Linked DNA regions of Homo sapiens. The protein of the gene in region 1 interacts with the protein of each later gene in a pairwise test. Each region holds a gene or a part of one and is shown in the gene's direction. Other genes may lie near its edges. The genes, in order: GSTM4, NELFCD and IGSF21.

Region 1 (4,337 bases):
TCCTCGTGGCCACTGTGGCCCCTACTTTGGAGATCCTGCTGGTCCAGTTCTTCCCGCCTTCCGCAGAGCCGTACTCCTCCTTCTGAAGAAGCCACCTGGGACCTGGGCCCCGTCTTCCTGGCTCCTCAGAGTCCTTGCAACAGCAGGCACCGCTTCTCTCTCCTACACTCAACCCCTCTCCCACTCCACTGCCTCTCAGTGTGCAAAAACAGTAAGAAGTGTCCCGTATTTTCAAAATCTCTCCCCTGTAGTTCCCACCTGACTTCTAGTCGTAGGTGGCCAAAGTACAGTGTTTTTGAAGGATTGTTTTATTCCCAGTGCCTGGAATATGGTAGGATCTCAACAACTGTTGTTTCAATAAAGGAATGACCAAATGGGTGAATACTAATGTAACAATATCAATTCTGTTTCTTTCATAATTATTCTCATAAGTGTTAGCTTTCTTAAAAAATCATCTTCACAATTGGACCTAGACATTTTATCTTTCCCAGCTCAAGATGGATAAACTCAGAATGACAGGCCAGGCACCGTGGCTCATGCCTGTAATCCCAGCACTTTGGGAGGCGGAGGCGGGTGGATCACTTGAGACCAGGAGTTCAAGACCAGTCTGGTCAACACGGTGAAATCCCATCTCTACAGAAAATACAAAAAAGTTAGCAGGGCGTCGTGGCGCTCGTCTGTAATCCCAGCTGCTCGGGAGGCTGAGGCAGGAGAATCGCTTGAGCCCGGGAGGCGGAGGTTGCAATGAACCGAGATCGCCCTACTGCACTCCAGCCTGGGCAACACAGCGAGTCCCCGTTCCAAAAAAAAAAAAAAAAAAAAGACTCAGAATGACACATTCTTAATGTCTTAATGTATAATGAGAAGTATAACTATTCAGAAGTCCAAGCACTTGTGTGTGCATGGTGCTATCGTCTTGCTGTAGGCAAACCTACATGGGAATCCACCTTGACACATAGGCCACTTCCTGAGCCTGGACCCAGTCTCAGAGCTGGGGAACTGGCCCAATGCAAAAGGGTCGGGAGCATCTGCAACAGAGACTGAGCTCTATCAGCTTCGGTGACATAGCCTCCATTCACGCTCCCCAACTCAGCAGAGAGAGCACACCATCAGACTTCTAAGACTTAGTAGCCAAGAAGTGTTGAATTAAACTCTCTGAGACCTCTCTTTAGTCTGACCCTGGCAGCCTCAGTCTCCCAGAGCCTGTGGGAACTCGGCAGCCGAGAGGCAGAAGGCTGGGCGACGTCCGGAGAAGAAGAAACGGGGGAAGAACTTTTCTCTTACGATCTGGCTTTACTCTCACGCGCACAGCCGAGTCCCTGGGGACCCAGCAGAGGTCCGAAGCGGAGCGGGGCGGGGCGGGGCTACGGAAGCTGGCGAGGCCGAGCCCCTCCTAGTGCTTCCGGACCTTGCTCCCTGAACACTCGGAGGTGGCGGTGGATCTTACTCCTTCCAGCCAGTGAGGATCCAGCAACCTGCTCCGTGCCTCCCGCGCCTGTTGGTTGGAAGTGACGACCTTGAAGATCGGCCGGTTGGAAGTGACGACCTTGAAGATCGGCGGGCGCAGCGGGGCCGAGGGGGCGGGTCTGGCGCTAGGTCCAGCCCCTGCGTGCCGGGAACCCCAGAGGAGGTCGCAGTTCAGCCCAGCTGAGGCCTGTCTGCAGAATCGACACCAACCAGCATCATGTCCATGACACTGGGGTACTGGGACATCCGCGGGGTGAGTGAGGGTCCGCTGCACTGTGGGACCGGGCGCGTGGGCGGGAAGTGCCGAGCGGCTGGGGACCGGCTCTAGGGACGGTTCCCTCCTTAGGGCTATCTCTCACAGGAGGGCCTGTGCATGCCTGTGTGTGTGTGTGTGTGTGTGTGTGTGTGTGTGTGTGTGCGTGCGCCGGGGTGGGGGGGGGGTGCAGTGCAGTGTAGACTAGGGGCTCACCTGGTGCAGAGAAAGTCACCAAGTCAGGGACCCTCCATCTCTGACACGACCTGCGGGCCATCTCTTCCAGCTGGCCCACGCCATCCGCCTGCTCCTGGAATACACAGACTCAAGCTACGAGGAAAAGAAGTATACGATGGGGGACGGTAATGACACCCTTGTGTCCGGGCTCTGCCCACTCACGCTGAGTTGGCACCAAGCAACCCATGGTGGCCACCTGTGGCTACCTCTGCAGGCCTCCCCTGCTGGAGCTGCAGGCTGTCCCTTCCCTGAGCCCCGGTGAGGGAGTCCTGTGGCCTTGCAAGGCAGAATGCTGGGGCGGGATGCTGGGCCCCCTGTTTAATTGGGTTGGGTGTCCCTCAGAGCTTCCCTAAACCCTGGAAGCCTTAGCCGTGTGGGGTCCAGAGCCCTCAGCGGGATTCTTTGTCCCTGAACCCTGGGATGTGGGACTGAGTGGTCAGATTCTAGATCCACCTGTCTCAGGGATCTTGCCACTGGTTCCTTGGGAGGGTCCCCGGGAAGGAGGGCTGGGCTCTGGGGAGGTTTGTTTTCACTTCTTCTTCCCCACGGCAGCTCCTGACTATGACAGAAGCCAGTGGCTGAATGAAAAATTCAAGCTGGGCCTGGACTTTCCCAATGTAGGTGCAGGGGAAGGGGCGGTTTTGGGGGAAAGTGCGACGTGTCTCTGACTGCATCTCCTCTCCCCAGATTAGAGGTGTTCGGATCAGGAGTCTTCTGCCCAATTCCTCTCACTCCTGGTTGTCTACACAGCCCCTGCATGATGTTCTGTGTCCCAGCTCATTTGTTCATGTGACAGTATTTCTATGTCAGGCCTGCCATGAGCGGGCACAGTGAGTGCCTGGTCTCCCCTCTGCCCTTGCATATGGGAAGGGGATGCTGGGGAGCCTGCTGGCCCAACTGAGCTTCCCCGGTTTCCCATCTATCCAGCTGCCCTACTTGATTGATGGGGCTCACAAGATCACCCAGAGCAACGCCATCCTGTGCTACATTGCCCGCAAGCACAACCTGTGTGAGTGTGGTTGGCTGCAGTGTGTGGGGGGAAGGTGGCATCCTCCTTGGCTGGATTGGGGTGCTATGCTCAGAGTGAGTCTGTGTTTTGTGGGTGGCAGGTGGGGAGACAGAAGAGGAGAAGATTCGTGTGGACATTTTGGAGAACCAGGCTATGGACGTCTCCAATCAGCTGGCCAGAGTCTGCTACAGCCCTGACTTTGTGAGTCCCTCCCTGGTCTGGACCAGAAGCCAGGCTTGTATTCCCATCTACTCTGGTCCTATTCACAATTTGAACTCCTCACTGCTATTGATCCTCTGAGGGTTCCCTGTACTGTAGCAGAGTGACTGTCATATCATTAAACTTATAAAATAAAAACTTGAAATCAGTCCCCACCAATCATAGGAAGTCCTATGAAAGCTAGCAATTCAGTTCCTAGACAATAAAGTCATGCGTTCAGAATTCCCTTCACCTCTGACCCCTGACCTCTGCCACGGGCCATCTAACCCAGCTGGTTCATGCCATCTGCCTGTTCGGGGAATACGCAGACTCACACTATGGGGTAAAGAAGTATGTAGTGGGATGTAATAGCACCCTCCTCTGTGGAATTCCGTGCTATTCTTTTCCTAGTGCTTCTCCTTGACACGCACAGGGATGAATGCATTTTCCTAACAGGCAGCTCAGGGGCGGCCAGAGGGCCTTTGTTCCTCTGTCTCCTTCCATGCAGCCTCTCAAAATCTCATCTCTCCAGAAACTACTCAATGTCCATTGTATTATTCTGCCACTGCACTAGGAGGAACTTTCAACTTCTTTCTCTGAGCTCCTTTAGTTCTTTGTATCCTTGATTTTGCTCATGTCTGGGTCCAGAGCCTGCCAGGTACTCAGGTGCTCCTGGGCTGACCCAGAGGAGGGTGGTTGGGAGGTCAGTGGGGACAGATTCAGGGATAGTGTTGCATTCCTCTCTGCCTTCCCATCACCACAAAAGCCTCCAGCTACCCATTTGGAGTGTAATAAATGCTGGTATGTCCAGCTGAAGCCAGTTCCAGCTGTGGGGAAGATGGCTGCTTGCTCGTGGCCAGCTGGGGCCATACACAGCCCTGGGGAGGCCACATCTGTGCAGGGAGCTTGTGTCTGAGGGTGGTGACAGCTGTTTTCTGCCTCAGGAGAAACTGAAGCCAGAATACTTGGAGGAACTTCCTACAATGATGCAGCACTTCTCACAGTTCCTGGGGAAGAGGCCATGGTTTGTTGGAGACAAGGTAATGGGGGCATGTGATGAGGACACTAGAGATTTGCCATACATCCTACGTTACAGAGATTCCAGCCCACACATTCTTGGCCTTCTGCAGATCACCTTTGTAGATTTCCTCGCCTATGATGTCCTTGACCTCC
Region 2 (2,323 bases), on another chromosome or scaffold:
CTCTGGCCTGTTTGTAGATCAGCACCTGCCACCAGCTCCTGCACCCCCAGGTCCTGCAGCTGCTTGTTAAGCTTTTTGAGACTGAGCACTCCCAGCTGGACGTGATGGAGCAGGTGAGCAGTGCCCGTGGGGCTTGCCAGAGGGCTGAGGAGGACCCTCTCTAACCAGCTCCCTGTCCCCCTTCTTCTGTAGCTTGAGTTGAAGAAGACACTGCTGGACAGGATGGTTCACCTGCTGAGTCGAGGTTATGTACTTCCTGTTGTCAGTTACATCCGAAAGTGTCTGGAGAAGCTGGACACTGACATTTCACTCATTCGCTATTTTGTCACTGAGGTCAGCAATGCACCGTTGGTTTCATGTTTCATACTGTTTACACTAGCACTGCCCTTTTTGGCTTAATTTAGTTCATTTTGTACCTAACTGAGAACTGTGCTTTCTGATGTAGTGATGACAATGACAGATACTCGTTTACCAAAAAGCACCTTCTGCCTGCAGCAGCTGTATGACACACTTTACCTCCATTACCACCCTGGGCATCTGAATGTTGGAGATGGGTGGTGTCACCGGCCGGTGGGGGTGGGGAGGGATTTTTTCCAAACTGATGGCCATTTCACCCGGATGTCGGTGGATGCCCCGCACTAGTGTGCGGAAGAAGTCACCCTGTGCTCCCCCACGCAGGTGCTGGACGTCATTGCTCCTCCTTATACCTCTGACTTCGTGCAACTTTTCCTCCCCATCCTGGAGAATGACAGCATCGCAGGTACCATCAAAACGGAAGGCGAGCATGACCCTGTGACGGAGTTTATAGGTGAGGCCGACTGCCTAGCCCTTTACTACAATAGAAAATGTCAGCTGGGCGCGGTGGCTCATGCCTGTAATCCCAGCACTTTGGGAGGCCAAGGTGGGTGGATCACCTGAGGTTGGGAGTTCAAGACCAGCCCGACCAACATGGAGAAACCCCATCTCTACTAAAAATACAGCATTAGCTGGGCATGGTGGCACGTGCCTGTAATCCTAGCTACTCGGGAGGCTGAGGCAGGAGAATCGCTTAACCTGGGAGGCAGAGGTTGCAGTGAGCCAAGATCGCGCCATTGCACTCTATCCTGGGCAACAAGAGCAAAACTGCATCTCAAAAAAAAAAAAAAAAAAGAAAGAAAATGTCATGTTCTACTTCCTGTTTCTAACACAGTCACTGTTTTCCTCGTTAAAGCTCACTGCAAATCTAACTTCATCATGGTGAACTAATTTAGAGCATCCTCCAGAGCTGAAGCAGAACATTCCAGAACCCGTTGTGGAAAAACCCTTTCAAGAAGCTGTTTTAAGAGGCTCGGGCAGCGTCTTGAAAATGGGCACCGCTGGGAGGAGGTGGATGACTTCTTTACAAAGGAAAATGGTAGCAGCTTCAGTGAGAAACTGCCCTTACAAACAGTCCCTTCTCTGCTGTCAATCCAATACTGCTCCCAAATCCTGTTTTCAGTGTTCATTTCCCTCAAGGCAGGCGCTGGGCTCCCACGACCCCTCAGGACAGATCTGGCCGTCAGCCGCGGGCCGCTGGGAACTCCACTCGGGGAACTCCTTTCCAAGCTGACCTCAGTTTTCTCACAAGAACCCAGTTAGCTGATGTTTTATTGTAATTGTCTTAATTTGCTAAGAACAAGTAATAAGTAAATTTTTAAAAAGCCTTTCTGCTGGGTTGGATTAAGTCCTGATGTGACATTGTTTTTGTGTGCGAATAAGGCACGGGCAGCCTCAGTCTCGTGCAGAGCCAGATACTTTATTCATCACTTGGGCGATTTGAAACTGCCAACTCCCTCCCTCCCTCCCCCACCCTTGATTCTAAAGTGACATAAGAATGGTGATAAGTCTGAACTCTTTCACCTCTTAAATGCCATATTATTGCCCACAGTTGCCAAATACAAAATATCAAGTCCTCTGCTGAAGAAGACTGAGGTCCCATCGTTTCCTGTGTCGCAGGTCACTTCTTCACCAGGTGGCTGACTGCATCATTGTGAGGCAGAGCCATGCTGTGCAAGTGTCATAAGTCATCCCACTTTCAACTCTCAGGAACACTCGCAGCCAGTGCCACGCTGTCCTCGCCATCCAATATTGATAGCCACCCCAGTTCCTGCCAGCCAGCCTGGCACACATAACCATAGGATCCCCTCTGGTCATGGGTCACCATGCCTTTTCTTAAACTGCGCTTCTAGTGACATGGCCTTAAACGATGGGGTCCCCAAATGTACAGTGCTCCTCGATGGCAAGGTTGTATCTGGCGCCCTTCCCATCCTTATAGGTGCTGGTCACGATCCTCAGCCAGCCTCTC
Region 3 (4,414 bases), about 92 Mb from region 1:
AAGGACCTAAGACTCCAGTGTTCATCAAGTGTTCAAGCCATATGCAGTCCAATCAACCTGGAACCAATTAGTCTGATTCACAAAAAAAAAAAAAAAAAAAAAAAAAAAAAATCCCACTTAGGGACAAACTGTAATCAAACACCTATTTATAAGGGTTTATTATGATCATTATTATTATTTTACTGAGAGGATCATTCTAAAGCCTGTCAGGTGAACGTATGCTTTCAGATCTTCATAAATGCAAATCGCTCCTTCTGGGGTGGGTGAGCAAGCTGAGCCGCAGAGCTGCCTTGGGAGGCGATGGGGTGAGGTTCCAGAGGGCAGGAGGAGGGAGCAGTTCACTTTCATGGACATCTCTGCACAAAGCTCACCCAGAGGCAGCCCAGCAACCACCCATTGCCCACCCCACTCCCTACACTCCTCTCAGAGGGCTGCTGGAGATGGAACTGGCTATAGACCCATTGCCCATGTAGGTAAACGATGCAACAGCCTGACTCAGCAACCTGCCAGAGCTAGGGAAGCTGGAGATTCTCCATAGAAGGCCTGGGTAAAGGGACCCACCTGAGTTCTGAGCAGGTTTTGCCCCTGGTCGTGCTGGTTTTTCTGGGCTTTGCCAATCTTCTGGGTCCCTACCAATGGTGAAATTCTATCTCCTGAACTTCCTCATCTAACCACATCCCCAGTCCACTCCAAGGGCTAGAGTACCCCTCCCCTTCATCCTCGCAGGAGGCCTCAAAGTCCACCGCCAGGGCTGAGGCTCAATGGTGTGTGTGTGTGTGTGTGTGTGTGTGTGTGTGTGCTCGCGTGTGTGTTGGTGGGAGAGTAATGGTAACATACAAGTCCCAAACCTGTTCTTCTCGGACCTGGGAAGAAAAGCTGTCAGGTCTGGCAAAAAGGTGGAAACTTGGTCTCTGCCAGGAGGAAACAATCAGTTCCTCACCCTTCCTGGCTGGATCCTAGCACATGGGAAAAAGACAGAACACACCCCATTTCCGTGGGTCCCTGGGGGAAGGAGCAGCCGTAATTGGGGAAGTTTCAGAACATGGAAACCCCTTAATCTTGCCCAATGAGGGCATTCATCGTTGGCAAGGTCAGAACTCCAGAGCCACACCCTGCCTGCCCTGCTCCCAGGATGGCATCTTTCCCTCTCGGGAGGGAGGCTGCCTCCTTTCATCAGGCTGAGTAGCGGGGAGGGCGATGGTAATCCCGGGGATAGGAGGGGCTAGGTAAAGGCGGATCCGATGGAGCATAGCTTCCAGGGCGGGGTGTTGGGTCACCTGGGTAAGGGTTAAGAAGCTGGAGGCAGCAAGCCAGTTTTGAGTGAGGGGGGACCTGAGTGAGGGGAGAGGGGAGGTTAGGAGGGGGTGAGCTCTCCTTCTCCCTGCAATAAATCGGCTTAGCGGACGAGAGCCGAACAGCCCAGAAAGGATTAAAGAAAAGTCTGTATAATACGCGGAGAGCGCGGCGAGGGGAGGGCAAGGAGGGCGGGGGGGCGGGGAGAGGGGGAGGGACGGAGGGAGGGCGAGAGGAGGGGGGTGCTCGCGCCGCCGGGAGAGGCGAGCGCGAGGCAGAGAGCGCGATTCGGCTCCAAACTCCGGCGCTGCAGCCGATCGGACTCTGGGCCGCGGTGGGCACCGCGCGCAGCTAGGGAGCCGAGAACCGCGGCGAGCCCCGAGGACGCCCAGAGCGCGAGGGTCGCTGCGCCTCGCAGAGCCGGAGCCGAGTCGAGCCGGGCGCCCGGGCTGCCTGGCCGCGGCGGCATGGGGGCGCCCCCGCGGCTCTCCGCGCTGCCCGCCACCGCCTCGGCCAGTGGCCGGAGGCAGGAGCGCGTCTGAGCCCATGGCGAGGGGACCCGCCGCCACCGCCTCCACCCCCGCCGCCCCGCCACCGCCGCCAGCTCCCGGGCACCATGCGAACCGCCCCGAGCCTCCGCCGCTGCGTCTGCCTGCTGCTCGCCGCGATCCTGGACCTGGCGCGCGGTGAGTGCGCGGGCGCCTGGCGGGAGCCGAGCGGTGAACGTGCGCGGGGACGGGGTGCCGGGGGAGGGCGCTGGCCGGGGTCGCTCCGAGAGGCTCGGGCTACGAGCACCGGTCCTGCCCGGGGTCTGTGGAGCTGGTTGGCTCGATGAGGGAGGGAGGACGCCTCTTGGAGAGCGCTCATGGATTTGTGCCAGGGTGTGTGTGTGTGTGTAAATTGTGTGTCTTTGTTGTGTGTCTGGGTGAGGGTGTCCGGGAAGGAGCTGTGTGGGCAGAAGGTGCGGGAGTGTATTTAGAGATGCAAGTGTGTGTGTGCGTGTGTGTGTGATGGTGTGGGGTCTGCGTGTGAGTGAGCGAGGGTCTGGATGGGTGTTAGAGTGTCTGTGTCAGTTACATGGAGAAGGTGTGTGTGTGAGAGTGTGAGCGAATGTTGGGGGGAGGGTGTGAACATGTGCCACCTTCCCTGTGAGGGTGTGAAGTGTGTGAGCTTGTGTCACTGTGGGTGTGAGGTGTTAGGGGGTGGGTATGTGAGGTTTGGCGTTTCACGTGTGTCCCGAGTGTGCAGGTCTCTAGGGGTGTACGACAGCGGATTACTATTTCTGTGTGCACAGGAGATGGGACTGTGACACTGGACAAGAGTCTGCTTATGTGGGATGGGTGGGGGTGCAGGTGCCTGGGAGTCGTGGGCTTCATGGGGCTGGGAGTGTGTGTATGCGTGCCATGGAGCGTGTGGTTATCGTGTGCAGGGAGGTATGGACGCTTCCGGGGCTGGGGAGTTGTGAGCAGCTCAGTGTGTGTGTGTGTGTGTGTGTGTGTGTGTCCCGCCGTGTGGACTTGCTCCCGGGTTAGGCTAAGACAGCTAGAAGGAGGTTGAAGCCGAGCGGGTTCTCCGGAGCCAGTGAGAGGTGGCTCCGCAGCCCCAGGGTCCGCGGCCGGCCTCCCACCCAGTGCCGCCGCGTAGTGGGTCTTAAATGGAGCTGAACCCTTTCGCGCAGTGAGCAGAGAGCCAACGTGAGGCTAAAAGCCAGGAGGGAGGGAGGCGGGACCAGCGAAGAGCCGCAGGCACCGAGACTACAGGCTCCGCGTCCGGGATCCTCCTCGGAGCCTGGTGCCAACCTCAGCCTGGCTGGAGTCAGAGCCTGGCTCCGCCTCGGAGGGGAGCGGGACGCGAGGTGCCAAAAAGTCGTCTTTATGATCAATAAGGTCTCGACCCCGAGCCCCACTGGATGATAGAGGTGGGCATCACCTCTGTCCTATGCCATAGCCTTGTCCCAGCAGGAGGTGCCTACCTAGGCTCTGAGAGTGCCTGCCAGGAAGGGGTGCCCCCTTAAAAATAACCCCAACTCCTTCTACCCCGAAGTCCTTGGGGAGTGCTGGGTCTGCTGATGGGAGAAGCTGCAGAATTTGAGCCCGGAAGGTGGTCCTGACAGCGAGGGGGGAGGGGTTGGTGTAACCCAGAAGGAATGCAAACCCTGTACTTTGTTCCCCTACCCTTGGAACAAGAGACTTTCCTAAGTGGATCAAAATGTCCCCCCTCAACTTTGGGAGGAGGGCTCTAGAGGGAAAGGTTACATGGGGGAGGTCCTCGTTCCAGCGCCGCCGAGAGGGCACTGGGGTTTGTTGAAAGGCACTGGAGCCCTCACCTGGACATTGCAGGGGGCGGGGGTTGGAGGCTGGGGACCTAAGGTAAGCACCCCTTTCCCTGGGAATGCGCAGAACAGAGAGACGCGGCAGGGTGAAGGAGAGGACTGATGAGAAGGGCTTGTTGGGAAACCCTGGCTCCGTCAGGACCCCACCCTGCGAGCTCTCCCTGGAACCCGGGAGCAGGGTTCTTCTGGCTGCCCGGCTGCAGAGAGCTGACCCGGCATCCTGACGCCTCAAATCCCTTTGCCCGCCTCTGCGGGCTGCGGGAGGCGGGGGTTGGCGTGCCTGAGGGTGAGCGCATCTGGGCCGGTGCAGCCAGCGCGGCCTCGGAGCTCCGCTGCTCAGGATGAAGGAAGAGCGCAGACGCGGATCGCGAATGGGAAACTTTCCGCGTCTGGGGCGCAGAGGGAGATCCGAGGCAGCCGGGAGCCCTCTCTTCTCCGCAGAGGAGAGCACACGAGGGTGGGGTCCCTCCTTCCTCCTTCCAAGTCTGTGCCCAGAATGGGGGGCGGGGTGCGAGAAGAGTCCGTGAGAGACGCAAGAGGCGGGCTGTGCCGGAGGAGGGCGCCCTTCCTGGAGGTGGCCGAGAGAGGTGCACCTGGCAGCGGCTTTGCAGGGCCACCTGCCTCCGAGGGCGCAGAGAGGAGCAACCCGCGCCGGCCTTCACGAACGTACTGGCGGTCACTGCTCGGGGAGGGGCACGGCCAGAACGCCCTCGCCGGTTCTGCCCCTTTGGGTGGCAGAGCAAGGGTGCCCGACGCTAGAGAGTCGGGTCTGGCAGGAGGAAGGAGGCC

What was found.
Region 2: the proteins of GSTM4 (region 1) and NELFCD interact in a two-hybrid assay, tested with the Homo sapiens proteins (one large-scale study listed by BioGRID and IntAct).
Region 3: the proteins of GSTM4 (region 1) and IGSF21 interact in a two-hybrid assay, tested with the Homo sapiens proteins (one large-scale study listed by BioGRID and IntAct).

What each region holds. Positions count from the first base shown.
Region 1 is NC_000001.11:109,654,706-109,659,042, forward strand, and holds the start of GSTM4 (glutathione S-transferase Mu 4), read left to right. Parts: upstream 1-1,393; 5' UTR 1,394-1,684; coding exon 1,685-1,720; intron 1,721-2,006; coding exon 2,007-2,082; intron 2,083-2,509; coding exon 2,510-2,574; intron 2,575-2,644; exon of another isoform or gene 2,645-2,830; coding exon of another isoform or gene 2,831-2,884; coding exon 2,885-2,966; intron 2,967-3,066; coding exon 3,067-3,167; intron 3,168-4,108; coding exon 4,109-4,204; intron 4,205-4,294; coding exon 4,295-4,337. UniProt on the Homo sapiens protein: Conjugation of reduced glutathione to a wide number of exogenous and endogenous hydrophobic electrophiles. Catalyzes the conjugation of leukotriene A4 with reduced glutathione (GSH) to form leukotriene C4.
Region 2 is NC_000020.11:58,993,432-58,995,754, forward strand, and holds the end of NELFCD (negative elongation factor C/D), read left to right. Parts: intron 1-17; coding exon 18-113; intron 114-192; coding exon 193-333; intron 334-678; coding exon 679-808; intron 809-1,210; coding exon 1,211-1,245; 3' UTR 1,246-1,682; downstream 1,683-2,323. Other genes in the region: CTSZ (cathepsin Z preproprotein), read right to left, coding at 2,218-2,323. UniProt on the Homo sapiens protein: Essential component of the NELF complex, a complex that negatively regulates the elongation of transcription by RNA polymerase II.
Region 3 is NC_000001.11:18,106,220-18,110,633, forward strand, and holds the start of IGSF21 (immunoglobulin superfamily member 21 precursor), read left to right. Parts: upstream 1-1,578; 5' UTR 1,579-1,909; coding exon 1,910-1,979; intron 1,980-4,414. UniProt on the Homo sapiens protein: Involved in synaptic inhibition in the brain. Selectively regulates inhibitory presynaptic differentiation through interacting with presynaptic NRXN2.